2 separate regions of the Homo sapiens genome follow, and region 2 is linked to region 1. The links come from fine-mapping of genetic effects on plasma protein levels. A gene starts in region 1. The other region holds a variant in brackets. All regions are shown on one strand. Distances are between the middles of the regions.

The links. PIP is the posterior inclusion probability: the model's chance that the variant is causal. The UK Biobank Pharma Proteomics Project read protein levels with antibody pairs (Olink). The fine-mapping took linkage between variants from a reference panel, not from the people measured, so its PIPs are less certain.
Region 2: its variant is fine-mapped to the plasma level of the KLK10 protein (UK Biobank, PIP above 0.99).

The regions. Positions count from the first base shown.
Region 1 is chr19:51,014,680-51,023,802 of GRCh38, reverse strand. It overlaps KLK10 (kallikrein related peptidase 10), which reads left to right and starts at 4,094. Exons shown (of 6, transcript NM_145888.3): 1 at 4,094-4,176; 2 at 4,664-4,760; 3 at 6,513-6,693; 4 at 7,647-7,921; 5 at 8,253-8,386; 6 at 8,851-9,123. The coding sequence starts at 4,673. The coding sequence ends at 9,003. It overlaps KLK11 (kallikrein related peptidase 11), which reads left to right. Exons shown (of 6, transcript NM_001136032.3): 5 at 575-711; 6 at 1,106-1,567. The coding sequence ends at 1,258.
Region 2 is chr19:50,981,502-50,993,423 of GRCh38, reverse strand. It overlaps KLK7 (kallikrein related peptidase 7), which reads left to right and starts at 9,507. Exons shown (of 6, transcript NM_005046.4): 1 at 9,507-9,573; 2 at 10,967-11,097; 3 at 11,510-11,657. The coding sequence starts at 11,025. RefSeq lists a silencer at 2,765-2,965 and an enhancer at 9,218-9,772. The variant T/AAT (reference allele first, on the strand shown) is at 7,944.

The sequences.
Region 1 (9,123 bases):
ACCTCTCTGAATCTTGATTTTCTTCTCTATAAAATGAGAATGATTATACCCACCTGTCAGGATTGGATTAGAGATAATGTATATCAAGCAACTGACATAAATCATTTATTGGATAGCAGGCTGGGCACCGTGGCTCACGCCTGTAATCCCAGCACTTTGGGAGGCCGAGGTGGGAAGATCACCTGAGGTCAGGACTTTGATACCAGCCTGGCCAACGTGGTGAAATCCCATCTCTACTAAAAATGTGAAAATTAGTTGGGCGTGGTTGTGTGCGCCTGTAATCCCAGCTACTCGGGAGGTTGAGGCAGGAGAATCGCTTAAACTTGGGAGACGGAGGTTGCAGTGAGCCAAGATCACGCCACTGCACTCCAGCCTGGGCAACAGAGCAAGACTCTGTCTCGAAAAAAAAAAAAAAAAAGCTGGATAGCATTGCTGTTGCTATTGTTACAAGAAGAGAGGTGAGTTGGCTGCGTCTAAGGACAGGGATTCCCCCAGGGGCGGGATCACAGCAAGCACTGCATTAGGGGAGGTGGCAGGGGGCTCATTCCCACAGCCCCTCACGCTGTTTCCACAGTACGCCTGCCTCACACCTTGCGATGCGCCAACATCACCATCATTGAGCACCAGAAGTGTGAGAACGCCTACCCCGGCAACATCACAGACACCATGGTGTGTGCCAGCGTGCAGGAAGGGGGCAAGGACTCCTGCCAGGTCAGTGTGGTCTCCAACCACAGCCCCATCCCCATCCCCAGCTTCAATGACATCTTTACCGACATCCACAATTTCATCCCCAACCTCAACCCGCCGACCCCTGCAACTCCCAATCCATCTCTTCCCCTGTTCCCGTTTCTGACCTCAGCACAAACTTCAGCTCCATCCCCGTTTCCACACCATTTCCAGCTCCAACCATCCCCAAACTCGTTTTTGAGCCTAACCCCATCCTTTATCCCACCCATAATCCCAGCTTTATCGCTAAACCTATCACCTTTCCCAGTGCCTACCCATCCTGTCTCGGCCCCACTCCTAAGCACCGTCCCCACCTCCTCCCTGGCTAACACCATGCTCAACGCTTTCTCTGACCGACATTCTCTCTCCCCGTGCCCAGGGTGACTCCGGGGGCCCTCTGGTCTGTAACCAGTCTCTTCAAGGCATTATCTCCTGGGGCCAGGATCCGTGTGCGATCACCCGAAAGCCTGGTGTCTACACGAAAGTCTGCAAATATGTGGACTGGATCCAGGAGACGATGAAGAACAATTAGACTGGACCCACCCACCACAGCCCATCACCCTCCATTTCCACTTGGTGTTTGGTTCCTGTTCACTCTGTTAATAAGAAACCCTAAGCCAAGACCCTCTACGAACATTCTTTGGGCCTCCTGGACTACAGGAGATGCTGTCACTTAATAATCAACCTGGGGTTCGAAATCAGTGAGACCTGGATTCAAATTCTGCCTTGAAATATTGTGACTCTGGGAATGACAACACCTGGTTTGTTCTCTGTTGTATCCCCAGCCCCAAAGACAGCTCCTGGCCATATATCAAGGTTTCAATAAATATTTGCTAAATGAGTGAATCTACTGAGTGCTTACTATGTGCTAGACCCTGATCCAATGGCTTTTATTTTATTTTATTTTTTGACAGAGTCTCGCTCTGTCACCCAGGCTGGAGTACAGTGGTGCTATCTCTGCTCACTGCAACCTCCACCTCCTGGGTTCAAGCAATTCTCCTGCCTCAGCCTCCTGAATAGCTGGGATTACAGGTGCCTACCACCACATCCGGCTAATTTTTGTATTTTTTAGTAGAGATGGGGCTTCACCATGTTGGCCAGGCTGGTCTCGAACTCCTGACCTCAGATGATCTGCCCTCCTTGGCCTCCCAAACTCCTGGGATTACAGACGTGAGCCACCGCGCCCGCCCGGCTTTCATTTATTAATTAAAAGAAATTAAATTAATTAATCTATTTAGGAGACAGTCTTGCTCTGTTGCCCAGGCTGGAGTGCAGTAACAATCACAGCTCACGGCAATCTCAATTTCCTGGGGTCAAGTGATTGTCCTCCCTCAGCCTCCAGAGTAGCTGGGACTACAGGCACATGCCACGAAGCCCAGCTAATTTTTGTATTTTTCGTAGAGACAGAGGTCTCAGTATGTTGCCCCGGCTAGTCTCAAACTCCTGGGCTCAAGCAGTCTGTCCTCCTCAGCCTCCAAAAGTGGTGAGATTACAGGCATGAGTCGCTGTGCCTGGCCTCCAAGCACTTTCAAATGTATCAACTTAATCCTCACAAAACCCTGTGAGGTCGGTACTGTTTTCATACCTATTTTATAGTTGAAGAAACAGACACAGAGAAGCAAAGTCACTTGCTCACAGTCACGTGGCTAGGAGAGCAAGGATCTGAAGCAAGGCGATCTCTTAATTACCAAGTGATGTTCCTGGAGTAAGGCTCTGTTTGTTTCCTTTCCTGTAAAATGCTGCATGCAAAAGTATAACACAGTAAGTAAAGAAGTCAGTTAGCCTGCACATACTAAGACCTAACCAAAGGAGCTTATTGTTTTTCTCCAACTTCCATGATAGGTAATTAGATAGTGGAGACCTCTGCTGGCCAATATGGTAGCCACTAACCGCAGCTGGCTCTTCCAATTAAAATTACATAAAGCCAGAAATGTAACTCCTCTGTCTCACTTGTTATATCTCCAAGGCTGGATAGCCACATGTGACTGGTGGTGGCTGGATTAGCTAGTGCATATAAAACATCACTGCAGAAAGTTCAGCTGAGCAGCACTGAGTTAGATGGCCTCTGAAGAGGATGTCCCACGGAGAGAATCCAGAACTCAGGATCTTTTTTTTTTTTTTTCTTTGCGACAGAGTCTTGCTCTGTCACCCAGGCTGGAGTGCAGTGGCGTGATCTCGGCTCACTGCAACTTCTGCCTCCCAGGTTCAAGCAATTCTCCTGCCTCAGCCTCCCTAGTAGCTGGGACTACAGGCCTGTGCCAACATCCCCAGCTAATTTTTGTGTCTTTTTAGTAGAGATGGGGTTTCACTATGTTGGCCAGGCTGGTCTCGAACTCCTGACCTCGTGATCCGCCCCCCCTTGGCCTCCCAAAGTGCTGGGATTACAGGCGTGAGCCACCGCGCCCGGCCAGCTCAGGATCTTTTGGGATGGTCTGTTCACCTCGCAGAAGTGGCTGGCATGAGCAATAGGAGCCCAGAGTGGAACCAGGGCCTTCTGGTTGTCAAGTGGACTTGCTGTGTGACCTCCTGTGAGTCTCTGCCCTCTCTGAGCCTCTCACTCCTCACCTGAGATGAGGGAGTTGGCTGAGGTGATGCCGATGCCCCTCACAGCTTTGACCTCCTATGATTCAGGGGCCTGTGTGTCACCTGGTGGCACACAGATGGCAGGGAGGGTGTGAGATGGCCACACATGGGTATGAGGCAGAGCCACAGCCCCCCCCAACACGCACATGGGCTAGTCACTGGGACACACACAGAGCTCACTCACGGCCACAGAGTGGGCGTGGGTTTCCCTTTTTCCTTGTTTCTGTTTCTCTTAGCCTCGGCGCCTCCCTCCCTCCCTCTCTCTCTCTCTCTCTCTCTCTCTCTCTCTCTCTCTGGCTCTTTTAGCCTTGGTTTGTTACAATCTCCCTTTTCAAGCCAGCCTCTGTCCCTCCTACTCAACCTGCTTTATCTCTAGGCCTTCCTCCTTCCTCTTCCACAGTCTGGCTTCTCACATTGTCACTCTAGGTATGCACTTCCCATTGATTTCCTCTTGCTCAGTGGCCTCTCATCCTGCCACCCCTAGCCTTGCTGGGGACGTGAACCCTCTCCCCGCGCCTGGGAAGCCTTCTTGGCACCGGGACCCGGAGAATCCCCACGGAAGCCAGTTCCAAAAGGGATGAAAAGGGGGCGTTTCGGGCACTGGGAGAAGCCTGTATTCCAGGGCCCCTCCCAGAGCAGGAATCTGGGACCCAGGAGTGCCAGCCTCACCCACGGTACAATTAGACAGAGGGAAAGGGAGGGAGCCCGGGGGTGGGGGTAGGGGAGGGTGGAGAAGCTTCCGGACTCCTTGGGGTTAAAAGGGAAGGTCCCGCCAGGGGTCCCTGGGCAGAGGATACCAGCGGCAGACCACAGGCAGGGCAGAGGCACGTCTGGGTCCCCTCCCTCCTTCCTATCGGCGACTCCCAGGTGAAGCTACCTGCACCCCACCCGGGTTGGGGTGGATTGCGAGAGGATGGGTGGGGACCCCCGGGCCACAGGCAGGAGCCGGCTTAGAGCCTCGGTTTCTCCACCTGCGGGACGCGGAAGTCCCCCCGCTGTGAGGTTGAGAAAGAGGCTCCCACTGGCTCCGAGCCTCGGATCCCCACCCCGCGCGTGAAGGAGGGGGAAACCTCGGGCGCGGCGTGGCTGCAGCCAGGGTAGCTGGGGCGCGGAGAGCGCTCCACTCGGGCACAGGGAGGACGGGAAGATGCCGCGAGGGGCGTCATTAGGGTAATTGTGCCCATTACCGCTGTTCCAGCCCGAATCTCCCGTCTGCCAGCCCCTGGGGTTATCGGCTGCAGGTCAAAAGGGTGCTTGCGGGCTGGGGTGGCCCAGGCTGGGCGGATGAGCGCGGCGAGGTGGGGGTCTCTAACGGAGCATCTGTTTTAACCCGCCCCTGCACACACCCCAGCAGATCCTGGCCATGAGAGCTCCGCACCTCCACCTCTCCGCCGCCTCTGGCGCCCGGGCTCTGGCGAAGCTGCTGCCGCTGCTGATGGCGCAACTCTGGGGTAAGGTCGGGGGCAGGGGGCGGGGAGAGGCGCCGGTGGGAGGCACGGGCGGGAGGAGAATGTGTTCCCGTCACCAAGCCCCGCGCACCTCTCCTCCCCCGAGACCCCAGCACCCACCCAGCGCTCCGGAGCACGGCCCGCCCCCAAGTCAGCTGGGCCCTTCTTCTGGCTCGGCCCCTGGGTGACCCGCCCCACTCAGGCCCTGTCCGATTTCTGCCACCCGGATCCTCGCTCTTCCGTGGACTCTTCGCCGCGTTCTTTCTCCTCCTCTTACGCCGCCCCATCCCGGCCCCGCTCCATTTTACACTACCGTGTTTTGTTTTGTTTGTTTGTTTGTTTGAGACGGAGTCTCGCTCTGTCGCCCAGGCTGGAGTGCAGTGACGCGATCTCGGCTCACTGCAAGCTCCGCCTCCCGGGTTCACACCATTCTCCTGCCTCAGCCTCCCGAGTAGCTGGGACTACAGGCGCCCGCCACCAAGCCCGGCTAGTTTTTTGTATTTTTAGTAGAGATGGGATTTCACCGTGGTCTCGATCTCCTGGCCTCGTGATCCGCCTGCCTCGGCCTCCCAAAGTGCTGGGATTACAAGCGTGAGCCACCGCTCCCGGCCACACCACCGTGTTTTATCCTGAGTCTTGCCTTACCGCTTTTTGCCCTCTCCCCTCACTTTTTTTCTTCCTCTTTCCCTTTCTCTCTCTTTTTTCTTTTTCTTTCTTTCTTTTCTTTCTTTCGTTCTTCTTTTCCTTCCTTCCTTTCCTTCCTTCCTTTCGTTTGTTTCTTCTTTCTTGTTTTACTTTCTCTCTTATTTTTTCTTCTTTCTTTCTTGTTTTTTTCTTTCTCTCTCTTTTTCTTTCCTTCTTTTTTTTTTTTTTTTTTTTTTGAGACAGGGCAGTGCTCTGTCTCCGTGGCTGGAGTACAGTGGCCCAATCAGAGCTCACTGCAGCCTCGACCTCCTGGGCTCAAGCGATACTCAGCCTCCAGAGTAGCTGGTACCACAGGCATGCACCACCACATCCGGCTTTTTTTTTTTTTTTTTTTTTTTTTGAGACAGGGTCTCACTCTGTCGCCCAGACTGGAGTGCAGTGGCCCAATCTCGGCTCATTGCAACCTCCACCTCCTGGGCTCAAGCGATCCTCCCACCTCAGCCTCCCAGGTAGCTGTGACTACAGGCGCATGCCTCCGCGACTACTTTTTTGTTGTTGTTGTTGTTGTTTGTTTGTTTTTGTAGAGACTGGGTCTTGCTGTGTTGCCCGGGCTGGTCTTGAATTCCCGAGCTCAAGCGGTCCAACCGCCTCGGCTTCCCAAAGTGCTGGGATTACAGGCGTAAACCACTGCGCCCCACCCCTCTCCTGGTTTTCAATCCCGTTTTGTTATTCACACCCCTTCCTCTCCCCGATCCCCGAGTTCTATCCCCGCACCCTTACCTCCCCGCCGCGTTCAATCCCCGCCCCTCTATCGACCAGCGACGTTCTAGCCAGCTCTCCAGGCGCGCTGCGTTCAGTCCCTGCCCTCCAGACCCACCCTATTCTGTCTCATTACTCCACGCTACCCTATCCCAGCTTCCTTCCACTTTCACGCGCTTCTTCTCCTCCCATTCCCTTCGGTGCACGCGAAACCCCCAATATTTCCCTACCACCCTCGCGTTCTGGCTGCGTCCCCCGTCCCCGAACGCAGTCCAGTGCCACAGCCCAGCTCCAACCCCAAACCCAGACCCTGCCCTCCGTGCTTTGATTCCGTCCCCTTTCTTTCTCCAGCCGCAGAGGCGGCGCTGCTCCCCCAAAACGACACGCGCTTGGACCCCGAAGCCTATGGCTCCCCGTGCGCGCGCGGCTCGCAGCCCTGGCAGGTCTCGCTCTTCAACGGCCTCTCGTTCCACTGCGCGGGTGTCCTGGTGGACCAGAGTTGGGTGCTGACGGCCGCGCACTGCGGAAACAAGTAGGAGGAGATCCATCCCCGAGGACGCCACGGGGGGCTGTGGAGGCGGCCTCCAGGGAGGAGCGGGCAGGGCGGGGTCTCTCGGAACTCCCACAGCTGGAGGTGCGGTCCCCGGTGTCCTTCCAGCAGGAGGAGAGACCGGGCTTGCGCTGTGGCCGCCAGGGGGCGGTGTGGTCCTTTTCCGCATTTCTGGGCCCGTCACTCCTCTCCCGCTGATTCTCCTTGAGCTCTAGGAGGAGGTGGTTGCCTGCAACGGATAGAAGCCAGGGTCCGGTGTGGTCAGGAATTTAGAACTAAAGGAAAAGGTTCACTTCGTGAGTCCCCGTTGAAGGAGGAAGGGTTGGGTATTACCACAGAGAAAATGTGGAGTTGGGCTGGGCTCGGTGGCTCACGCCTGTAATCCCAGCACTTTGGGAGGCCAAGGCGGGTGGATCACCTGAGGTCAGGAGTTCAAGACCAGCCTGGCCAACATGGTGAAACCACTTCTCAACTAAAAATAAAATAAAATAAAAAATAAAAAATTTTAAAAAAATTAAAAAAAAAAAAAGGCTGGGTGTGGTGGTGGGTGCCTGTAATCCCAGCTACTCAGGAAGGAGGCTGAGGCAGGAGAACTGCTTGAACCTGGGAGGTGGAGGTTGCAGTGAGCCGAGATTGCGCCATTGCATTCTAGCCTGGGTGACAAGAGCGAAACTCTGTTTCAACAAAGAAAAGAAAAAGAGAAAAGAAAATGTGGAAGGCTTACCTAGGTGTCCAGGCCCCCAGCCCTCCTCAATTCCTACAGATCCTCAGAGCTCAAACAACTGATTCCTCCTCCCCATGTCCACTGAGGTCCCCTTCTCCCACAAGGCCCTCTTCCCTCAGACTCTTCCTATCTCCAGGCCCTGCGTCACTGCCCACCTGCTTTCCCAGTCCCTATGAAGGGTTTGCCTTCACATGCCTCTTCCTTCCCCCAGGCCACTGTGGGCTCGAGTAGGGGATGACCACCTGCTGCTTCTTCAGGGAGAGCAGCTCCGCCGGACCACTCGCTCTGTTGTCCATCCCAAGTACCACCAGGGCTCAGGCCCCATCCTGCCAAGGCGAACGGATGAGCACGATCTCATGTTGCTGAAGCTGGCCAGGCCCGTAGTGCTGGGGCCCCGCGTCCGGGCCCTGCAGCTTCCCTACCGCTGTGCTCAGCCCGGAGACCAGTGCCAGGTTGCTGGCTGGGGCACCACGGCCGCCCGGAGAGGCAAGAGCTGGGGCTCTGAGGCCGGAACCTCAGGAGGAGGGGGCTGAGGGCCTGAACCCCTGGGTCTGAGGAAGGATGGGCTGGGGACTGGATTCCTGGATCTGAGGGAGGACGGGCTGGGGTCCTAGATGCCTGGGTCTGTGAGTCTGAGGGGAGGAGGGGCTGGGGGCCTGGACTCCTGGGTCTAAGTGGGGAGGGGCTGGGGCCAGGATTCTTGAGTCTGAAGGAGGAGGGGCTGGGGCTTAGGATAGAAACGGTCTTGTATCTGGACTCCTGGCTCCCCAAGGATTGGGGGCTGGACCCAGGGATTACTGGCATATTCTCCCTTCAGTGAAGTACAACAAGGGCCTGACCTGCTCCAGCATCACTATCCTGAGCCCTAAAGAGTGTGAGGTCTTCTACCCTGGCGTGGTCACCAACAACATGATATGTGCTGGACTGGACCGGGGCCAGGACCCTTGCCAGGTAGGGTCTGAACAGGGAGAGTCTCTGACTCCTGGGAGGGAGGACAGGGAGGTTATGGGAAAAGAGCAGACCCTGTGCCCGATCCCCAACTCCATTCCCAAACCCATCCTTGACCCCAACTCTTACCCAGACCTAACCCCCTCCTCATCCCTATCCTCAATCCCATTTCCATCCCAACCCCACCCCATTCCCATCTCCAAGCCCATTTTCATCCCCTCACCTTCCATGAACTACAATCCCAACCCCAGTCTCACTGTGCCTTCATTCTCATCCCCCAGCCCAACCTCCCATAACCTGAAGTCCACCTCCATTCCTACCTTCCAGCTCATACCTAATTCCAACCCCATCCCATCCTCGTCTTTATCCCAACCCAACTCCTTCCTTCCCCACCACTGCCCCAGATCCCAAAGTGACAGCTCTCACGTTGGCACATTTATTTGATCTCTCCTTCCTGCCACCCCCAGAGTGACTCTGGAGGCCCCCTGGTCTGTGACGAGACCCTCCAAGGCATCCTCTCGTGGGGTGTTTACCCCTGTGGCTCTGCCCAGCATCCAGCTGTCTACACCCAGATCTGCAAATACATGTCCTGGATCAATAAAGTCATACGCTCCAACTGATCCAGATGCTACGCTCCAGCTGATCCAGATGTTATGCTCCTGCTGATCCAGATGCCCAGAGGCTCCATCGTCCATCCTCTTCCTCCCCAGTCGGCTGAACTCTCCCCTTGTCTGCACTGT
Region 2 (11,922 bases), 32 kb after region 1:
CTCCTGCTTCAGTCTCCTGAGTAGCTGGGATTACAAGCATGCACCATCACGCCCGGCTAAAATTTTTTGTATTTTCAGTAGAGACAAGGTTTCTCTATGTTGGTCAGGCTGGTCTTGAACTCCCGACCTCAAGTGATCTGCCTGCCTCCACCTCCAAAAGTGCTGGGATTACAGGCGTGAGCTTGATAAGGAATAGCAACAAAAAATTTGTACTAAATTATCATTACTACATTTTGAATTTCATCAATTAAAAATTGTGAAATTTTATTTTCTTTCCTGCTATTAAATATCTACATAATATCTTCCATTTTTCTCTCTTGGTCCACATAAGCTAAAATATTTACTCTCTGGCCCTTTATTTTAAAAATTTGCCAATCCTTGTTCCAAAAGAGACTCGTTTTAAACATAACCAACTTACATTATCACACCTTACACAGTTGATACTTTCTTAGTATCATCCAATGCCAAGGAGATTTTTTTCCTTTTTGAGACAAGGTCTTACTCTGTCACCCAGGTTACAGTACAGTGAGCATTGCACAAACAATGCTTAAGGCAGTTTCTACCTCCTGGGTTTCAGCCATCCTCCCACCTCAGCCTCCTGAGTAGCTGGGACCACAGGCATGTGCCACCACGCCCAGCCATTTTTTTTTTTTTTTCAGTAGAGCTAGGACTCTACCATGTTGCCTAGGCTGGTCCAGGAGATACTTTAATGTCTCCAGTGGAACATAAGCCTGAAAAGACTTGGGGATTGATTTACTCAATCTTAGGTACTAAGGAGGGGCATGGAGGGAACATAGCAGCTACTAACAGAAACAAAAATCTCCTTTCTCCTGGCATCTTGATATTAATCCCAGGGAGGAACTCTAATTGGTCCAGTTTGAACTGGGCCCACCCCTTGAATCTATCATTGTTGCCAGAGAGAAAACACTGATCTTGTTGACTTGGCCTGGGTCATTTCTCCGCCTCAGTGGGTGGGTGGAGTTGGAGAACTACGATTGACAGTTTCACCAGAACTATAAGAAATAAGGCAGCATCTCCCCCAAAAGAAATGGGGTTCTGCCGGAAGGTGGAGGTTGCAGTGAGCTGAGGTCGCACCACTGAACTCCAGCCTGGGTGACAGAGTGAGACTCTGTCTCAAAAAAAAAAAAAAAAAAAAAAAAAAAAAAAAAAGAAAGAAAGAAAGAAATAAGGAGGAAGAGAATCCAGGAAGTATGAAACAATGGGCCATCAGAACCCATGGGCTGAGTCAGGAGGTACGAGGGTCACAGTGTTCAGAATCCCTCAGGGAAAGGCATAGCTGGCAAGATTATCAGATGCCAGTTCTCAGGTGTGATCATAAGGTGGAAGATGAGTCATTTAACAAAGGTTCAGGACATAGGTCTGAGGACGATGGAGGTATGGGGCTGGGTGTCTGGATGACACTTAGCAACAGGTGCCAGGACTAAATGCAAAGGGCACAGGGGGCCTGGATATGGGCCTCTCTCTGACATGGGGGTATGCATCATTAATAGGCTGAGGGCGATCCAAGTCTGTTTTGAACCAAATGAGACTCAGAGGGTACATGTGGATGTAACAAGGAAATTTCCTTCTCAGAGTATGGATTTGTGCAGTAGTGATACCATAGGCCTTTGAATCCCAATGTTCAAATTCTGGCTTTTTTTTTTTTTTTTTTCCTGAGATGGAGTCTTGCCCTGTCACCCAGGCTGGAGTGCAGTGGTGCAACCTCGGCTCACTGCAACCTCTGCTTACTGGCTTAAGTGATTCTCCTGTCTCAGCCTCCTGAGTAGCTGGGAGTATAGGCACATGCCACCACATCCGACTAATTTTTTGTATTTTTAGTAGAGATGGGGTTTCACCATGTTTGCCAGGCTGGTCTCGAACTCCTGACCTCAAGTGATCCATCCACTTCGGCCTCCCAAAGTGTTGGGATTACAGGCTTTAGCCACCACGCCTGGCTGAATTCTGACACTTCTGACTCCTCAGCTCTGTGACTTTGCTCAAGTGATCTAGCCTTTTTTAAACCTCCATTTTCTCATCTATAAAATGGGGATGATGGGGCAGGCGGCAAAAAATAAAGGTAAAATGGGGATGACAATCCTCACCTGGACCAATGTGAGGAATACAGACACACCACACTAAATGTAGGGGGGAAAATGGGAGCTGCTTCTTCATTCCGTGGGTGATGGGCTGAGGGAACTCATGTTAATTCACTGGCTGTTATGTGCCCATCAATTTTCCATTCATAATTTTATTTAATCCTCTCATTTGCCTCGGTAAATAGGTTTTGCTCTCCTCCACTTTGGGGAGGGGCAAAGTCTGACTCAGAAAAATGAAGTCACTTACCCGAAGTCACAGGGTGGGCAACCAGGATTCAAAGCTGGGTTGAAAGTCCAAGTTCTTTCTAGTTCTTTCTGTCACACTGCATGGTGGAACAGCTCAGGGATCAAGGCAGGACTGAATCTAAGGCCTGTGGACCTGTGGATGCCAGAAGTTTGCAGACTAGTATTTATTTAAGTACCTCCTGTGTTCTCCGGTCTGGGCGGGGTGCTGGAAAAAAAAAAAGAACCCCACACACATTTCCTCTGCTTGTGATGACCAGTGTTTGGCAACAAAATCAGGTTAAATAATTAGGAATATAATTTACAGAATGATAGATGATGAAAAGCAGAGGATAGACGTTTTGGTGACTTAGGAGTGAATAACAGGGCTCTAGAGTAGCCTGGCTCCTTCCTCTTTCTAACAGATACTAAGGAGGCAGAGGACTGAGGGAGGAGAGAATCTAAGGATGAAGATGCAGGGAGTAGATAATACACTGGAAGTCTTGCTACCATTTCTGTCTTTGAGAAGCCAGGAAGGAAAGATACAGATTGCTGAATCATGGAGCTGTGAGGTCAACTGGGCTGGAGTCTGCTTCTCCTTGATTTGGGAGCCCAGGTCAGGAATGTTGACACCCTTCACGACCAGATTGCTGCTGTGGAATGGGCAGGGCTAGATGTCCAAGTTCGGGGATCTGATTTTGGATTCGATGACAGTAAATGTCTCAGAAGATTTTGGGACTCGGCTTGAGTTGAGTTAGTATAGCATCAATGTTAGCAAGATATTCGTTGGCAGACTTTATTTTAGAGTTTTTGTAAAATGAAGAGTCAAAGTTGTGTGGTGAGCTGGAGAAATAAAAATGGAACTGGGAAAAGAATTGGGGATGGAAATGAGAATGGGATTTTAGGTAGCAATTGGGTTGAGGATGAGAATAGGGGTGGGATGGGGTGAGAGTGTTAGAATTGGTGTTGGATGTGAGGGAATGGGTTCATGGGGGAGGATATGAATGTGGGCTTCCTAGAATATGATGGGAATGGAGACTAATGTCTGAATTATCCCGTGGCAGGCTTGATACTCAGGCTATGGTGACATTCACTGCTCAGGTCAAGGTTGAGTTTGGCTTATGGCTAATGGTTCAGGGTTAAGGTCAAGGGTCAGGAGGGTTAAGTTTGATTGAGGTCTGGATCCTAGCCTGAGTTGATATTTGGAGTCAAGAACTCAGTCAAGATTTAGGTTATTGGTTGAGATACAAATTGGGGTTCATCAAGGATAAAGCAGAATTTGAGGTTCAGGATTGGGTACAGATTAAGGTTTGGGGTTAAGACTGGGGCTTACTAAAGAGTCAAAAAAACAATAGATGTTGGCATGGATGTGATGAAAAGGGAACACTTATACACTGCTGGTGGGAATGTAAAGTAGTACAACCTCTGTGGAAAACAGTATGGTGATTTCTCAAAGAACTAAAAGTAGATCTACAATTCAATCCAGCAATCCCACTACTGGGTATCTACCCAAAGGAAAAGAAGTCACTATATCAAAAAGACACATACACACGTATGTTTATCGCAGTACAATTCACAATTGCAAAGATATGGAACCAAAGTAAGTGCCCATCAACTGATGAGTGGATAAAGAAAATGTGATGTGTATGCACCACGGAATACTACTCAACCATAGAAAGAATCAAATAATGTCTTTTGAAGCAACTTGGATGGAGTTGGAAGCCATTATTCTAAGTGAAGTAACTCAGGAATGGAAAACCAAATGCCTTACGTTCTCATGTGTAAGTGGGAGCTAAGCAGTGGGTACCAAGTGGTATAATGGACACTGGAGACTCAGAAGGGGGAGGGTATGAAGAGGATAAGGGATAAAACACTATAAATATTGGGTACAATATACACTACTTGGGTGATGGGTGCACTAAAATCTCAGACTTCACTGCTATACGATACATCCATGTAACCAAAAGCCACTTGTACCCCGAAAGCTATTGAAACAAACAAAAAGGCTGGGGCTTATGTCAAAATACGTGTTGGGAGTTGTGTCAAAGTAAAGGTTGGATTTAGGGTTCTGCTTGAAGTCAGGGTCTGAGGTCTTTTCTTGTCATATCAGAACCATTTGACCACATCTACCATGTCTTCTCAATGAATGGCATCACTGTCCATCGAGCAACAGACTTTGAAATCTTAACATCTTCCACTACCTCAACACAACCTTCATTCAATCCATCACCAAGGCTTGTTGATTCTCTCTCCTAAGTGCATTTTGAACCCATGTACTTAACATCGTCTCCACCTTTCAACCACCTGTATCCAAGTCACCATCTTCCCTCATCTAGACAACAACAATGACTTCCCCCATGGTTGCCCAGTATCTTCACATCCCACCCAAATCCAGCCTTCATACAGTAGCTAGGTTGATGTTTTGAAAATACAAATCTTGTTATGTTATTTCTCTGACTAAGGTTCAAATAGTTCTTCATTATCCACAGGATAAAGCAAGACTCACAATGACATACAGAGCTCGTCATTATCTGGTCCCAGTTAACCTCTGGCCTCCGAGCTCCAGCAATAATGCCTTGGGCCTTTGCACATGCTCTTTTCTCTACACAACACACTCCCCATTCTCCTCCCATTTTCTTCTAGTTACCAGAAGAAATTTTCTTCTAGTTACCAGAAGAAATTTTCTTCTAGTTTACTATTTCTAGTTACTAGAAGATTTCTTCTAGTCTACTTCTAGTTCCTAGAAGATTTCTTCTAGTTTAATATTCTTTCAAATCTCAGCTCATAGTCAATTCCTGGGTCTAACCCCTCTGGAAGTGCCTTCATAATACCCTGCACCTGTCTTTCAGAGCATGCCTTGTAGTTGTAATTTTACACTTGTTTATGAATTGACTGTATTTCTTTTACATGACACTATCAGCTCCTTGAGGGAAGAGACACTATCTAGGTTTGCACACCATTGTATCCTCATTGGTAGATAGCTACCACCCAATCCATATTTGTTAAATATATAAAGGATTGGTGTTAAACTATTGCATAAACAATCAACAACTTTTCCCTAAAAAATAAGAAATCCACTGTATAGAAGAAAAACTAAGAAAAAATTAAATTTAGATGAGAGGTAGTCAGCTATAGGATCCAAATTACTAATTTGTTTTTTTAAAAAAGACTATTCTAAAAATTAAATTGGTCATCTTCACATTAACAATGGCCAAAATGGGATATGGGCTGAAATGGGATATGGGGATGAGGGTTGGGAAGAGAGCTAAGACTGGAGGCATGGTTGAGTTTGTTGATTTATGTGGCTTCAAGATATGGAATCAAGTTAGAATCGGATTTGGATTTGTGGCTTGGGATCAGATTTGGGATCTGAGTCAATATTCTGATTGAACATTGAGGTCTTATAAAGATGATTTTGGCTACAAGGACCAAGCAACTCTAACCCAGAAGGGGAATCTGAAAAATCATGACATGAAGAGGCTCCATCGTTGGTTAATTCACCAGCTCAGTGACTTCATCAAAGACCCAGCTGATCCTCACCTCTCTGGTGGGCTACCTGCAGTGTTTTGACTTAGTCCTCTGGTCACTTCCCTCTGTGGTCCCTGGGGTGCTGCCACAGTTCCAGAATTTGCATCCAGAAAAGACACCATCTAGCAGAAGAAAAAAGTCCCCTTTCAGTGCCTCTTTTTGAAAATGAGAAAGTCTTTCCTAGAAGTGCCTCAGTGGTCTTCCCCTCCTCCTCATTGGCCAGAAGAACAGCACATGTCCATTTTCCAACTAATTAAGCAAACGAAATATGGCTTCAATGCTTGGTTCATTGAGGCTTATAGTCCTGATGAGGATAAAGTATTATCCAAACAAAATGGAGCCTCTGATAGAAAGGCAGAAGGAGTGAATGCCTGGGGACACAACAATAATGTCTACTATTATGGGTCAAATGTAGAATCGAGTTGGGGTGCCAGGCGTGGTGGCTCACACATGTAATCCCAGCACTTTGGGAGGCTGAGGAAGGCAGATCACCTGAGGTCGGGAGTTAGGGACCAGCCTGACCTACATGGAGAAACCCCATCTCTACTAAAAAAAAAAAAAAAAAAAATTAGCCAAGTGTGATGGTACATGCCTGTAATCCCAGCTACTCGGGAGGCTGAGTCAGGAGAATTGCTTGAACCTGGAAGGCGGAGATTGCAGTGAGCTGAGATCGCACCACTGCACTCCAGCCTGGGCAATAAGATCAAAACTCCATCTCAAAAACAAAAACAAAACAAAACAAAGCAAAAAAAAGAATTGAGTTGGGGTCAGGATTGAGATAAGTTTTAGGTCCAGGGTGGAGAAATAAATCCCATTTTGGGGATATAATTTAGAGGTTGAGGTCAATTCCAACTTTAGAAGTGTGTCCAACAATGGTTCCTGTCTTACTCAAAATAAAAGCCAAAGACCTTTCAGACCGCATGTCATCAGAGTCCTGTTATATTTCTGGCCTCATCACCTGCCCTCATCTCCTTTGGTCACTCTGTATTGGTCGCAGTGATTTGTCTGCTGAGGCACTTCAGATATGCTCCTTGGCTAACACACCTGCCTGCTCGCTTTGCCTGGAACTCACTACCTTCAAGCAGCCACCTGGATCCCTCCACCATCTCCTTCAAGACTTTGCTCAAATATCACCTTCACGTGGGGTCTTTGCAGCCAACCTTCCTGATATTATAACCTCAGGGATCCTCGAGGGTAGAGGGAATCAGTAACTCCCCAACCCTCTTCCTTGCTTGGATTTTCCCTTATAGCGCTTACAACCACCTAACAAACTCTACATTTTATTTGCTTATTTTTGTGCTGACCTGACAGTACAAAACAAAAACCTCTATGAAGACAGAAATTTTTCTCTGTTTTATCACTGCTGTGTCTCCAAGAGCCTGAATAGTTTCTGGCACAGAGTAGATGCTCAATGGATGCTGTTTGAATGACTACAATGAACAAAGATGAATGTACAAAGAAGTTCATCTCAGCATTATTATAATTAAAACTATCCAAGTGTATTTCAATTTGAGGCAGATGACATGCATCATGATACAAGTATAGTATGGAATATTACACAACCATTATAAAGGAAGGAAAAGTAATCTAAATGTACAAAGAGGGAAAAGTTTTCCTCTTTTTAAAAAATAAATGTTATTGTGTATATTTAAAGTGTACAATATGATCATATGCGATGTATATACATAGGACAATGATTACTATAGCTGAACAAATGAACATGTCCATCATCTCACATAGTTACCCATTTTCCTCCCCTGTGGCAAGAGCAGCTATAATCTACTCATTTAGCAAAAATCCTTGGCTGGGCGCGGTGGCTCAGGCCTATAATCGCAGTACTTTGGGAGGCCGAGGCCGGTGGATCACCTGAGGTCAGGAGTTGGAGAGCAGCCTGACCAACATGGTGAAACCCCATCTCTACTAAAAATACAAAAATTAGTTGGGCATGGTGGTGCACGCCTGTAATCCAGCTACTCAGGACTCTGAGGCAGGAGAATCACTTGAACACGGGGGAGTGGAGGTTGCAGTGAGCCGAGATCGTGCCATTGCACTCCAGCCTGGGTGACAGAGCCAGAGTCCATCAAAAAAAAAAAAAAA[T/AAT]AAGAAAGATTCTTCTCTCCTCTATGTGTCCATGCAGTCTCATCATTTAGCTACCACTTGTAAGTAGGAACATGCCATATCTGGTTTTCTGTTCCTGCTTTAGTTTGTAAGGGTAATGGCCTCCAGCTCCATTCACGTCCCTACAAAGGACATGATCGTGTTCTTTTTTATGGCTACGTAGTATTCAATTGTGTATACGTACCACATTTTCTTAATCCAGTCTATCACTGATGGACATTTAGGTTGATTCCCTGTGTTTGCTGTTGTCAATAGTTCTACAATGAACGTACGTGTCCATGTGTCTTTAAACAGAATGATTTATATTCCTTTGGGTACACACACTGGGGCTTATGAGAGGGTGGAGAGTGGGAGGAAGGAGAGGATCAGAAAAAAATAACTAATGGGTACTAGGCTTAATACCTGGGTGATTAAATAATCTGTATAACAAACCCCCATGGCGCACGTTCACCTACGCAACAAACCTGCACATCCTGCACATGTACCCCCGAACTGAAAAGTTAAAAAAAGAAAAATAAATATTTGCTTATAAATTAATAAATGAAGCCCTCAAAAATGTTCTATTAGATAATGTTAAGTACAGACATTTTTGTTATAAATACATAATATACAAAGAAATCTATGTATAACATGATTAAAATGACCATAAGAACATAGATCCTAAACATGGCAAATATTAGTGGGGTGGGGTTAGGGAAAGCGTTGTTTTTAACTTACACCTCTCTGTTAGAGTTGGGAATGGGTTCAGGCGTAATTACAGGCACGACTGGGATCAGCTTGGACAAGTTCCCCCAGGCGGGCCAGAATTAGGATGTAGGGTCTAGGCCACCCCTGAGAGGGGGTGAGGGCAAGAAAATGGCCCCAGAAGCCGGGCGCAGTGGCTCACGCCTGTAATCCCAGCACTTTGCGGGGCCGAGGCGGGCACATCATGAGGTCAGGAGATCGAGACCATTCTGGCCAACATAGTGAAACCCGGTCTCTACTAAAAATACAAAAATTAGCTGGGAGTGGTGGTGCGTGCCTGTAATCCCAGGTACTCGGGAGGCTGAGGCAGGAGAATCACTTGAACCTGGGAGGCGGAGCTGGCAGTGAGCCGAGATCGCGCCACCGCACTCCAGCCTGGCGATAGAGAGAGACTCCATCCAAAAAAAAGAAAGGAAGGGAGGGAGGGAGGAGGGAAGAAAGAAAGAAAACCGCCCCAGAGAAGGACCCGAGCCAGAGCCTATTCTCTGAGCTCAGCGACTGCTTGAATCCCGCTCCTGCCCCTCAGACCCAGCGCACCGGGTCCCTCCCCCGAGAGCAGCCAGGAGGGACTGTGGGACCAGAATGTGCGGGGGCGCAGGAGCTGGGCACCGCCCGTCCTTCGGAGGGAGGGTGGAGAGAGAGTGCAGTGGTGCCAATTGCTCTCGCTGCGTCAGGGTTCCAGATAACCAGAACCGCAAATGCAGGCGGGGGTGTCCCAGAGTCGGCTCCGCCTGCACCCCAGGGCGCTGGGGCCGGGCATGGGGCGGGGGGTGATATAAGAGGACGGCCCAGCAGAGGGATGAAGATTTTGGAGCCCAGCTGTGTGCCAGCCCAAGTCGGAACTTGGATCACATCAGATCCTCTCGAGGTGAGAAGAGGCTTCATCAAGGGTGCACCTGTAGGGGAGAGGGTGATGCTGGCTCCAAGCCTGACTCTGCTCTCGAGAGGTAGGGGCTGCAGCCTAGACTCCCGGTCCTGAGCAGTGAGGGCCTGGAAGTCTGCAATTTGGGGCCTTTTAGGGAAAAACGAACTACAGAGTCAGAAGTTTGGGTTCCACAGGGAAGGGCAAGATCGGAGCCTAGATTCCTGGGTCTCTAGGGATCTGAAGAACAGGAATTTTGGGTCTGAGGGAGGAGGGGCTGGGGTTCTGGACTCCTGGGTCTGAGGGAGGAGGGCCTGGGGGCCTGGACTCCTGGGTCTGAGGGAGGAGGGGCTGGGGGTCTCGACTCCTGGGTCTGAGGGAGGAGGGGCTGGGGGCCTGGACTCCTGGGTCTGAGGGAGGAGGGGCTGGGACCTGGACTCCTAGGTCTGAGGGAGGAGGAGCTGGGGCCTGGACTCCTGGGTCTGAGGGAGGAGGGGCTGGGGCCTGGACTCCTGGGTCTGAGGGAGGAGGGGCTGGGGCCTGGACTCCTGGGTCTGAGGGAGGAGGGGCTGGGGCCTGGACTCCTGGGTCTGAGGGAGGAGGGGCTGGGGCCTGGACTCCTGGGTCTGAGGGAGGAGGGGCTGGGGCCTGGACTCCTGGGCCTGAGGGAGGAGGGACTGAGACCTGGACTCCTAGGTCTGAGGGAGGAGGGACTGGGACCTGGACTCCTGGGTCTGAGGGAGGAGGAGCTGGGGGCCTGGACTCCTGGGTCTGAGGGAGGAGGGGCTGGGGCCTGGACTCCTGGGTCTGAGGGAGGAGGGGTTGGGGCCTGGACTCCTGAGCCTGAGGGAGGAGGGACTTGGACCTGGACTCCTAGGTCTGAGGGAGGAGGAGCTGGGGGCCTGGACTCCTAGGTCTGAGGGAGGCGGGGCTGGGGGCCTGGACTCCTGGGTCTGAGGGAGGAGGGGTTGGGGCCTGGACTCCTGAGCCTGAGGGAGGAGGGACTTGGACCTGGACTCCTAGGTCTGAGGGAGGAGGAGCTGGGGGCCTGGACTCCTAGGTCTGAGGGAGGAGGGGCTGGGGGCCTGGACTCCTGGGTCTGAGGGAGGAAGGTGCTAGGGTCTGGACTCTTGGGTATGAGGGAGGAGGAGGTTAGGGGTCTGGACTTCTGAGTGTAAGGAAGGAGAGGCCAGAGAAAGGAATTTCTGGGTCTGAGGGAGGAGGGGCTGGGGTTCTGGACCCCTAGGTCTGAGGGAGGAGGGGCTGGGGCCTGGACCCCTGGGTCTGAGGGAGGAGGGGCTGGGGCCTGGACTCCTGGGTCTGTGGGGGGAGGGGCTGGGGCCTGGACCCCTGGGTCTGAGTGGGGAGGGGCTGGGCCTGAATGCTTTCTCCTTCTCAGCTCCAGCAGGAGAGGCCCTTCCTCGCCTGGCAGCCCCTGAGCGGCTCAGCAGGGCACCATGGCAAGATCCCTTCTCCTGCCCCTGCAGATCTTACTGCTATCCTTAGCCTTGGAAACTGCAGGAGAAGAAGGTGAAAGCTGGACTGGGAAGTCTGACCTCACCTCAGGGCCCCCACTGACCCTCTCCAAGGAGTCCCTGAGTCAGAACCCTTCCCTCCTCAAACAGCTTCCATCCTGGGAGGACCAGACTGTCGGCTGAAGCCCCCGCTCTTCCTGCTTCTGCTGACTCAGGGGGTCTCTGTCCCCTCCAGGCCCTGCCTCCTGTGCTCAGGGTCTCTCTGTGGTTCCCCAGATGAGATGCGCCTCCTGGGTTTCTGAGTGGGCTCCTTCTGTCTGTCTCTATCCCTATCTCTTGCTTTCTCTGTATTTCTCCACACATTTTCATCTGTCTCTGTCCATCTCTGACTCTGGGAATCCCTGAGGTGCAGCCTCAGCCTTCCCCTAATGCTAGCTACCCACGTGCTCCTCCATGTCTCCATCCAGCCCAGGGTGACAAGATTATTGATGGCGCCCCATGTGCAAGAGGCTCCCACCCATGGCAGGTGGCCCTGCTCAGTGGCAATCAGCTCCACTGCGGAGGCGTCCTGGTCAATGAGCGCTGGGTGCTCACTGCCGCCCACTGCAAGATGAAGTAGGTGCCGCCCAAGTCTCTGCTGGAGGTGCACCAGCGTCTCCAGCTCGCTATGGGGGTGGAAGGGCAGTCTTTCTGTGCCTACGGCTCTATTCTCCTCTCTCTGGGTCTCTGTCCTCCTCTCTCTGGGCCTCTGTACCCCCTCTCCCTGGGGCTCTGTCCCCCTCTCTCCCTGGCTCTCTGTCTCCCTCTCTCTGGGTCTCTGTCCCCCTCTCTCTGGATCTCTGTTCCCCTCTCTCTGTGTCTCTGTCCCCCATTCTCTCTA